Linked DNA regions of Homo sapiens. The protein of the gene in region 1 purifies or fractionates together with the protein of each later gene. This does not show direct contact. Each region holds a gene or a part of one and is shown on either strand. Other genes may lie near its edges.

Region 1 (4,630 bases):
GAGAAGCTCAGACTGGGCCCTGAAGGAGGAGCAGGGCTTGGCTGGGGTGGGGCAGGAGAGAGCATGTTTTTATTTGTTTTTATTTTTTATTTTTTGAGATGGAGTCTCACTCTGTAGCCCAAGCTGGAGTGCAGTGGCATGACCTCAGCTCACTGCAACCTCTGCCTCCTAGGCTCAAGCGATTCTCGATTCTTGTGCCTCAGCCTCTCGAGTAGCTGGGATTACAGTGTGTGCCACCATACCCAGCTAATTTTTTGTATTTTTAGTAGAGACCGGGTTTCACCACGTTGCCCAAGGTGGTCTCAAACTCTTGAGCTCAGATGATCTTCCTGTCTCGGCCTCCCAAAGTGCTGGGATTACAGGCGTAAGCCACCGTGCCCAGCCGATCATGGGGTTTTTGATCACCTTTTTCTACCTTGAAGCCTCTGCCCATCAGAACCATGGAGCGCAGCAGCCGGGTATGTGCCTGTGACAGACCCATTCCAGCCATGTGGTGTGTGGCAGGTTCCCTAGGGCTCGGCCACATGTTGGTAGGCCTGGAAAGGAGCAAAACAGCACTAAATGGACAGGGGTCTCTGATTCAAATGGGTCCCTAATTCACTGGAGCCACCTCCCCGCTTCTGACTCCTTGGGCGTATTCACCTTTGAATTTAGGAATTTTCAACTTTCTGTTTTGCCAACAACCCTGCCCTTTGGTGTGGGGTCCAAGGGGTCGGGGACCCAGAGTGGGTGTTGCTAGGCTGACTGATGGCAGCCTTCAGAGGGAGTGAGACCACCCCTCCCTTCCCTCCTTCCCCCACCCTCTTTGACACCGCTGGGTTTTTTTTTTTTTTTTTTTTTTATCAAAAGCACTAATTTTGTGATGTAATGTGATGTAGCGATGAAGGACCCAGCCCCGGAGTCAGACCATGTGGTTTGAATCTCAGCTCTGCTAGTCAGGAAGCCTGGGCTGGATTTCTTAATTTCTCAGTGCCTCCATTTCTTCATCTTTGAAATGGGGTTAGTAATAGTCCCGGTTACTGCAACCATTATATGAGATGATGAACCGCGACACCAGCATGATGCCTGGTTCTTATTGACAATGGCTACCACTTTCTCCACACCTATACATCACTACATGCCTGGCCTAACTTGGCTGGACTCCAGAGCTTGGGCTCTTTTGGCCACAGTACTCTGTTTCCTGACAGCACTTATGTCCTTTACTCCTGAAATATTTGAAATGTCAGGAAGATGAGACTTGTCCTTGGACAAGTGGCAGAAGGCCAGGGCATGGCCAAGTTATCAGGATGCTCTCTCTTTCCAAATAGGGTTCCCCTAGACCACCTAGCCCCTCTATGCTCTAAGAAAGAATCATCATAATTCCACCCTCCTTTCCTCCCTCTGGGCCCCCAAACCTCTCCACCTGCTCCAGGTGCCCCACAGTCGGTGGCAGGACCATCGCTATGTAAATGTCTGTGCAAATACCCTGGTGTCAAGCTGCCAATTCTCCAGTGAGGCAGGACTACCTCCTGAGACCATCACTTCCCAGCCATGGGGCCCAGGGCAAAGACCATCTCCTCCCTGTTCTTCCTCCTATGGGTCCTGGCTGAGCCGGCTGAGAACTCGGACTTCTACCTGCCTGGGGATTACCTCCTGGGTGGCCTCTTCTCCCTCCATGCCAACATGAAGGGCATTGTTCACCTTAACTTCCTGCAGGTGCCCATGTGCAAGGAGTGAGTCTCCAGTGTGGGGCTGGAAGTGGCAGTGGGGATGGGGTGGGAGGCCAGGCCTGGTCCTGTGGGTCCTTGGGAGCCAGACCAGGACCAAGGGCTTAAAGCACTCCTCCCCATTCATTGCCAACCCCCTTATTCTGGATCCATGCCCCTAGTCCTCAGGGAGGCCCCGTATAATATGGGTTACCAAAATCTTTGGCGACTGTGCTCTGAAACACTGAGACTGGGGTCATCTCAGTGCCATTTTTTTTAAATAGAGTTACAGAATGTTTGAGCCTAGAGGGCTCTTAGAGGCCATCAAGACTGCTCCCACCCACTTTGGCAACTGGGGGACTCCCAATGGGTCCATGTCAAAGCCCATTCTGAAAACCTTTGGGAGGCAGAATGTGATTTTTCTGTAGCAGGTTCTGTGGTGGGTAGGGGTGCTTTTGGGCCGAGAGGGAAGTTCCTCTTCCCCCACCTCCTCCCTGAGCCCCTTGGGGTGGCAGCATCACTTGGAGATTGTGGGGGCTGTGTGCATCTGCATGCAAGCACGAAGGACATGGAGCCAGCCTGGGACTAAAAAAGAGTGACCTCTTGCAGAGAGGGTGAAGGTATTGCGGGAGACAAGGAGAAAGGAAGAACAGTGCAAAAGATGATTAAGGGTTGAGTATGAGAAATGCATCATTTATGACACTGGGGAAGATTATATGCTGGCTTGAGAATGGTGAAGGTGATGGCACCAGGCATGATGCTGGGTTTTCTAATGCTTGTGATCATGGTGGGGTGTATAATGATGGTGATAGTTGTGATGAAAGTAATGGTGGTGATGCTGATAATGTTGATAACAGTAATACTGGTGATGATGACAATGATAAAAAGTATGATGGTGATGATGATGATGATAGTGGTAATGGTGGTGATGATGGTGATGGTAGTGATGATGATGGCAGTGGTGGTAATAGTGTTGGCAGTGATGGTGCTGGTAGTGATAATGGTGATGGTTGCGTTGATGATGGTGATGGTTTTAACGATAGTGTTGGTGATGATGGTGATGGTAGTGATGATGGTGTTGGTGGTGATGATAGTGATGCTGAAGATGGTGCTGATGGTGGTGATGGTGTTGGTGATGATGGCGATGGTAGTGATGCTGGTGATGGTGTTAGTGATGGTGTTGGTGATGGTGGTGATCGTAGTGATGCTGATGATGGTGCTGATGGTGTTAGTGATGACGTTGGTGATGGTAGTGATGATGGTGATGGGGGTGGTGATGATGGTGATGCTGATAATGATGGTGCTGATGATGGTGATGGTGGTGAGGGTGTTACTGATGGCGTTGGTGATGGTAGTGATGATGATGTTGGTGGTGGTGATGGTGGAAATGGTGGTGGTGATGGTGGTGATGATGGCTGTGATAATGGTCGTGCTGATAGTGATGGTGGTGACGGTGATGATGGTGGTGATGATGGTCACAAGGTTGTGGTGACAGTGATGGCCCTGGTGGTGATATTGGTAATATGGGTAGTGGGTGATGATGGTGATAGTGGTGATGGTGGTGATGGAAGTCTTAGTGGATAATGATGGTCACATTGGTGGACATTGGTAGAGTGGTGATGGAGGTTATAGGGATAGTAGTGATGATGGCCACATGGATAACAGTATCAGTGGTGGCCATATGGGCAATGGTGACCCTAGAGATGTGGTATGGTGACAATGACATGGTGAAAATGCCCGAGTCTTCTGGAGTGGCTCTTCTCAGTCAATGCCTTGGCTTTCCTGTGGCAGGAAGGAGGAGTGGGCTGGTTCTCTTATCTCTTCCTTCCTCATTCTGGATCTGCTTCCACCTCATGATGCTGTGGCCCCTCCAGGTATGAAGTGAAGGTGATAGGCTACAACCTCATGCAGGCCATGCGCTTTGCGGTGGAGGAGATCAACAATGACAGCAGCCTGCTGCCTGGTGTGCTGCTGGGCTATGAGATCGTGGATGTGTGCTACATCTCCAACAATGTCCAGCCGGTGCTCTACTTCCTGGCACACGAGGACAACCTCCTTCCCATCCAAGAGGACTACAGTAACTACATTTCCCGTGTGGTGGCTGTCATTGGCCCTGACAACTCCGAGTCTGTCATGACTGTGGCCAACTTCCTCTCCCTATTTCTCCTTCCACAGGTGAGGCCCCTGGGCCCTGGAGAAGGACCTGGGGAGGGGGGCAGAGGAATGGCTGTCTAGAGGCCTCAGAAGCCACTTCCTCCATCAATCATGGGAGGTGATGATAGGACCAGAAGCAGGGTCAGGACATCAGCCCAAATCTTGAGAAGGTAGCCCAGCTTATGGAGTAAGGGCTCAGGCTTTGGAAGCGGGCAGATCTGGTTGTGCAACTTGGCACCGAGCCTTGGCCACAGTGAAGCCTTTGGCAAATCTCTTGACTCTTCTAGCCTCAGTTTCCTCACCTGTAAAGTGGGATGATAAGCGTTCCATCCCAGGACTGTCTGAAGGTTAGTGTTCAACCTGTGTAAATTTCTGGCACACAGTAGGTAGTAAATAATGTTGTTTTATAAAGCATCTTGCACAGGAATAAAAACTTGAAGTGCTTAGTATTATTCTGTACAGCTGCCTAGCACAAGGTCTGCCTCGTAGTAGGTCCTCACAAAAGGGTGATTTGTATTACTACTATTATTATAACTATTATCATAATCATGATTGAAAGTGCCAAGTGCAGTACTGGTACAGGCTATATATTCATTAAAGATCAGCTAGCAAAAGACTTGGCACACAGTAGGTAGTCACAAATATTGTGATTGTTACTGTTTAATGTTAGTACTTTTACATGAAGCATCTAGCTGAGGACTGAATTCATTCTTTCATTCATGTAACAGATATTTATTGAGCACCTACTATGTGCCAGGTACTGTTGTAGGTGCTGGGATACAGCTGGCAAC
Region 2 (3,189 bases), on another chromosome or scaffold:
ATGTCCTTCCTTTAAGAGTGCTGCTGTTGATCAGAAGTAGGAAGTGGAAGGAAGCCTTCAAGGGGACAAAAAGAGAGCAAGAAAAAAAAGGGGGAGGGGGTCATATTGATTCCTGTGGGAGATGAAATTCGGATATTAAACAACTGACCTAAGTCGCTTACAGTTCTTCCTCCCACCTTTCTATTTTGCCTCTTAATCAGCCCAGGCGTCCTTTCCCTGAGATTAAAAAAAAGAGAGAGGGGAGCGTTAACAATTAAATGTAATAAGCAACTCCAAAGATGGGGATGCTGTCGAGGTGGTAGTTCCGTGCAAACCTTGCTATTACCGTTGCAAATAGACGCGGAGCCCAAGGTAAGGGAGGCTTTCGTGCTGATCCTTGGTGTACTGATTCCCGGTAAGCGGTAGGAACGTCCTTTTTAAACTCTAGGCATCGGGAGGTATTCGGAGATTGCGGATACCTTCGCTGAGTTCTTTGTAATCCATCGTGCAGAACTATTTCAGTGGCTTAAAGATGCGGTTTGGTAGCGTCGCTGACATGATCAATGAGAAGTGGTCGCAGGGCGCTCTCCGGGAAGCGCTGCTAAGTGGTACCGTGCATGCAATTAGGACGCTGATGTGCTTTAATAGCGTGGTAGTGAAGTCCACCATCAAAGCAAATGCGCTCTCCTTTTTTCTCCTTACTCAAAGCTCCGGGAGACAATTGGTGATTTAAGAGCTTCTTGGGGCTCCTTTGATGCATTATATTACAGCCTTTTTGCCTCTGAAAAGTATCCTTTAGGTTCCCACCGTGGCATTTCTAGCGATGGTTTAAAATACCCCAAGTATTTTGGCTCCTTGCCTCTCTGTGAACATGAGAGACCTTCACGGTGAACTGTTAACTGAAGAGGCTCTGAAAGAAAGAAGGGGGGGTGGGGGCTGGGTATAGGTGAGGTGGGGAACCTTGTAAAATGGTGCTTCTTTTTTCTTAAATTAGAACCATGAAACTGAACTGACAGCCATTTTATGTATATTTATGGATTGGTTTTGAAAAGGGGGGGAGAAGAGAAAACTAAAATGGGACTTTATCTAACCTGCTCTTATCTTGTAAGGAGCAGCATATTTGTGGTGTGCTCATTTAAAAAAATTAATCAACCTTTAAATCAAAATGTATAATAGATTTTAATAAAATCTAGAGAATGTCAATGTTTCACTTGGGGAGGTGTGTCATTTGTATCTCTTCCTTTTGGGTTTTAGAGTAATAATGTTAAGAAAGAGAGAGACTTTCTGACTGATCCCTTAAATTTTTGTCATATTCTGTTATTTCCTTGTTTTCTCTCTCCCTTACAGGAGGTAAAATGCACACTTGCTGCCCCCCAGTAACTTTGGAACAGGACCTTCACAGAAAAATGCATAGCTGGATGCTGCAGACTCTAGCGTTTGCTGTAACATCTCTCGTCCTTTCGTGTGCAGAAACCATCGATTATTATGGGGAAATCTGTGACAATGCATGTCCTTGTGAGGAAAAGGACGGCATTTTAACTGTGAGCTGTGAAAACCGGGGGATCATCAGTCTCTCTGAAATTAGCCCTCCCCGTTTCCCAATCTACCACCTCTTGTTGTCCGGAAACCTTTTGAACCGTCTCTATCCCAATGAGTTTGTCAATTACACTGGGGCTTCAATTTTGCATCTAGGTAGCAATGTTATCCAGGACATTGAGACCGGGGCTTTCCATGGGCTACGGGGTTTGAGGAGATTGCATCTAAACAATAATAAACTGGAACTTCTGCGAGATGATACCTTCCTTGGCTTGGAGAACCTGGAGTACCTACAGGTCGATTACAACTACATCAGCGTCATTGAACCCAATGCTTTTGGGAAACTGCATTTGTTGCAGGTGCTTATCCTCAATGACAATCTTTTGTCCAGTTTACCCAACAATCTTTTCCGTTTTGTGCCCTTAACGCACTTGGACCTCCGGGGGAACCGGCTGAAACTTCTGCCCTACGTGGGGCTCTTGCAGCACATGGATAAAGTTGTGGAGCTACAGCTGGAGGAAAACCCTTGGAATTGTTCTTGTGAGCTGATCTCTCTAAAGGATTGGTTGGACAGCATCTCCTATTCAGCCCTGGTGGGGGATGTAGTTTGTGAGACCCCCTTCCGCTTACACGGAAGGGACTTGGACGAGGTATCCAAGCAGGAACTTTGCCCAAGGAGACTTATTTCTGACTACGAGATGAGGCCGCAGACGCCTTTGAGCACCACGGGGTATTTACACACCACCCCGGCGTCAGTGAATTCTGTGGCCACTTCTTCCTCTGCTGTTTACAAACCCCCTTTGAAGCCCCCTAAGGGGACTCGCCAACCCAACAAGCCCAGGGTGCGCCCCACCTCTCGGCAGCCCTCTAAGGACTTGGGCTACAGCAACTATGGCCCCAGCATCGCCTATCAGACCAAATCCCCGGTGCCTTTGGAGTGTCCCACCGCGTGCTCTTGCAACCTGCAGATCTCTGATCTGGGCCTCAACGTAAACTGCCAGGAGCGAAAGATCGAGAGCATCGCTGAACTGCAGCCCAAGCCCTACAATCCCAAGAAAATGTATCTGACAGAGAACTACATCGCTGTCGTGCGCAGGACAGACTTCCTGGAGGCCACGGGGCTGGACCTCCTGCACCTGGGGAATAACCGCATCTCGATGATCCAGGACCGCGCTTTCGGGGATCTCACCAACCTGAGGCGCCTCTACCTGAATGGCAACAGGATCGAGAGGCTGAGCCCGGAGTTATTCTATGGCCTGCAGAGCCTGCAGTATCTCTTCCTCCAGTACAATCTCATCCGCGAGATTCAGTCTGGAACTTTTGACCCGGTCCCAAACCTCCAGCTGCTATTCTTGAATAACAACCTCCTGCAGGCCATGCCCTCAGGCGTCTTCTCTGGCTTGACCCTCCTCAGGCTAAACCTGAGGAGTAACCACTTCACCTCCTTGCCAGTGAGTGGAGTTTTGGACCAGCTGAAGTCACTCATCCAAATCGACCTGCATGACAATCCTTGGGATTGTACCTGTGACATTGTGGGCATGAAGCTGTGGGTGGAGCAGCTCAAAGTGGGCGTCCTAGTGGACGAGGTGATCTGTAAGGCGCCCAAAAAATTCGCTGAGACCGACATGCGCTCCATTAAGTCGGAGCTGCTGTGCCCTGACTATTCAGATGTAG

What was found.
Region 2: the proteins of TAS1R2 (region 1) and SLITRK5 purify together in Homo sapiens (affinity purification with mass spectrometry; one large-scale study listed by BioGRID and IntAct). This does not show direct contact.

What each region holds. Positions count from the first base shown.
Region 1 is NC_000001.11:18,856,561-18,861,190, reverse strand, and holds the start of TAS1R2 (taste receptor type 1 member 2 precursor), read left to right. Parts: upstream 1-1,530; coding exon 1,531-1,712; intron 1,713-3,559; coding exon 3,560-3,860; intron 3,861-4,630. UniProt on the Homo sapiens protein: Putative taste receptor. TAS1R2/TAS1R3 recognizes diverse natural and synthetic sweeteners.
Region 2 is NC_000013.11:87,674,055-87,677,243, forward strand, and holds part of SLITRK5 (SLIT and NTRK-like protein 5 precursor), read left to right. Parts: intron 1-1,326; 5' UTR 1,327-1,334; coding exon 1,335-3,189. UniProt on the Homo sapiens protein: Suppresses neurite outgrowth.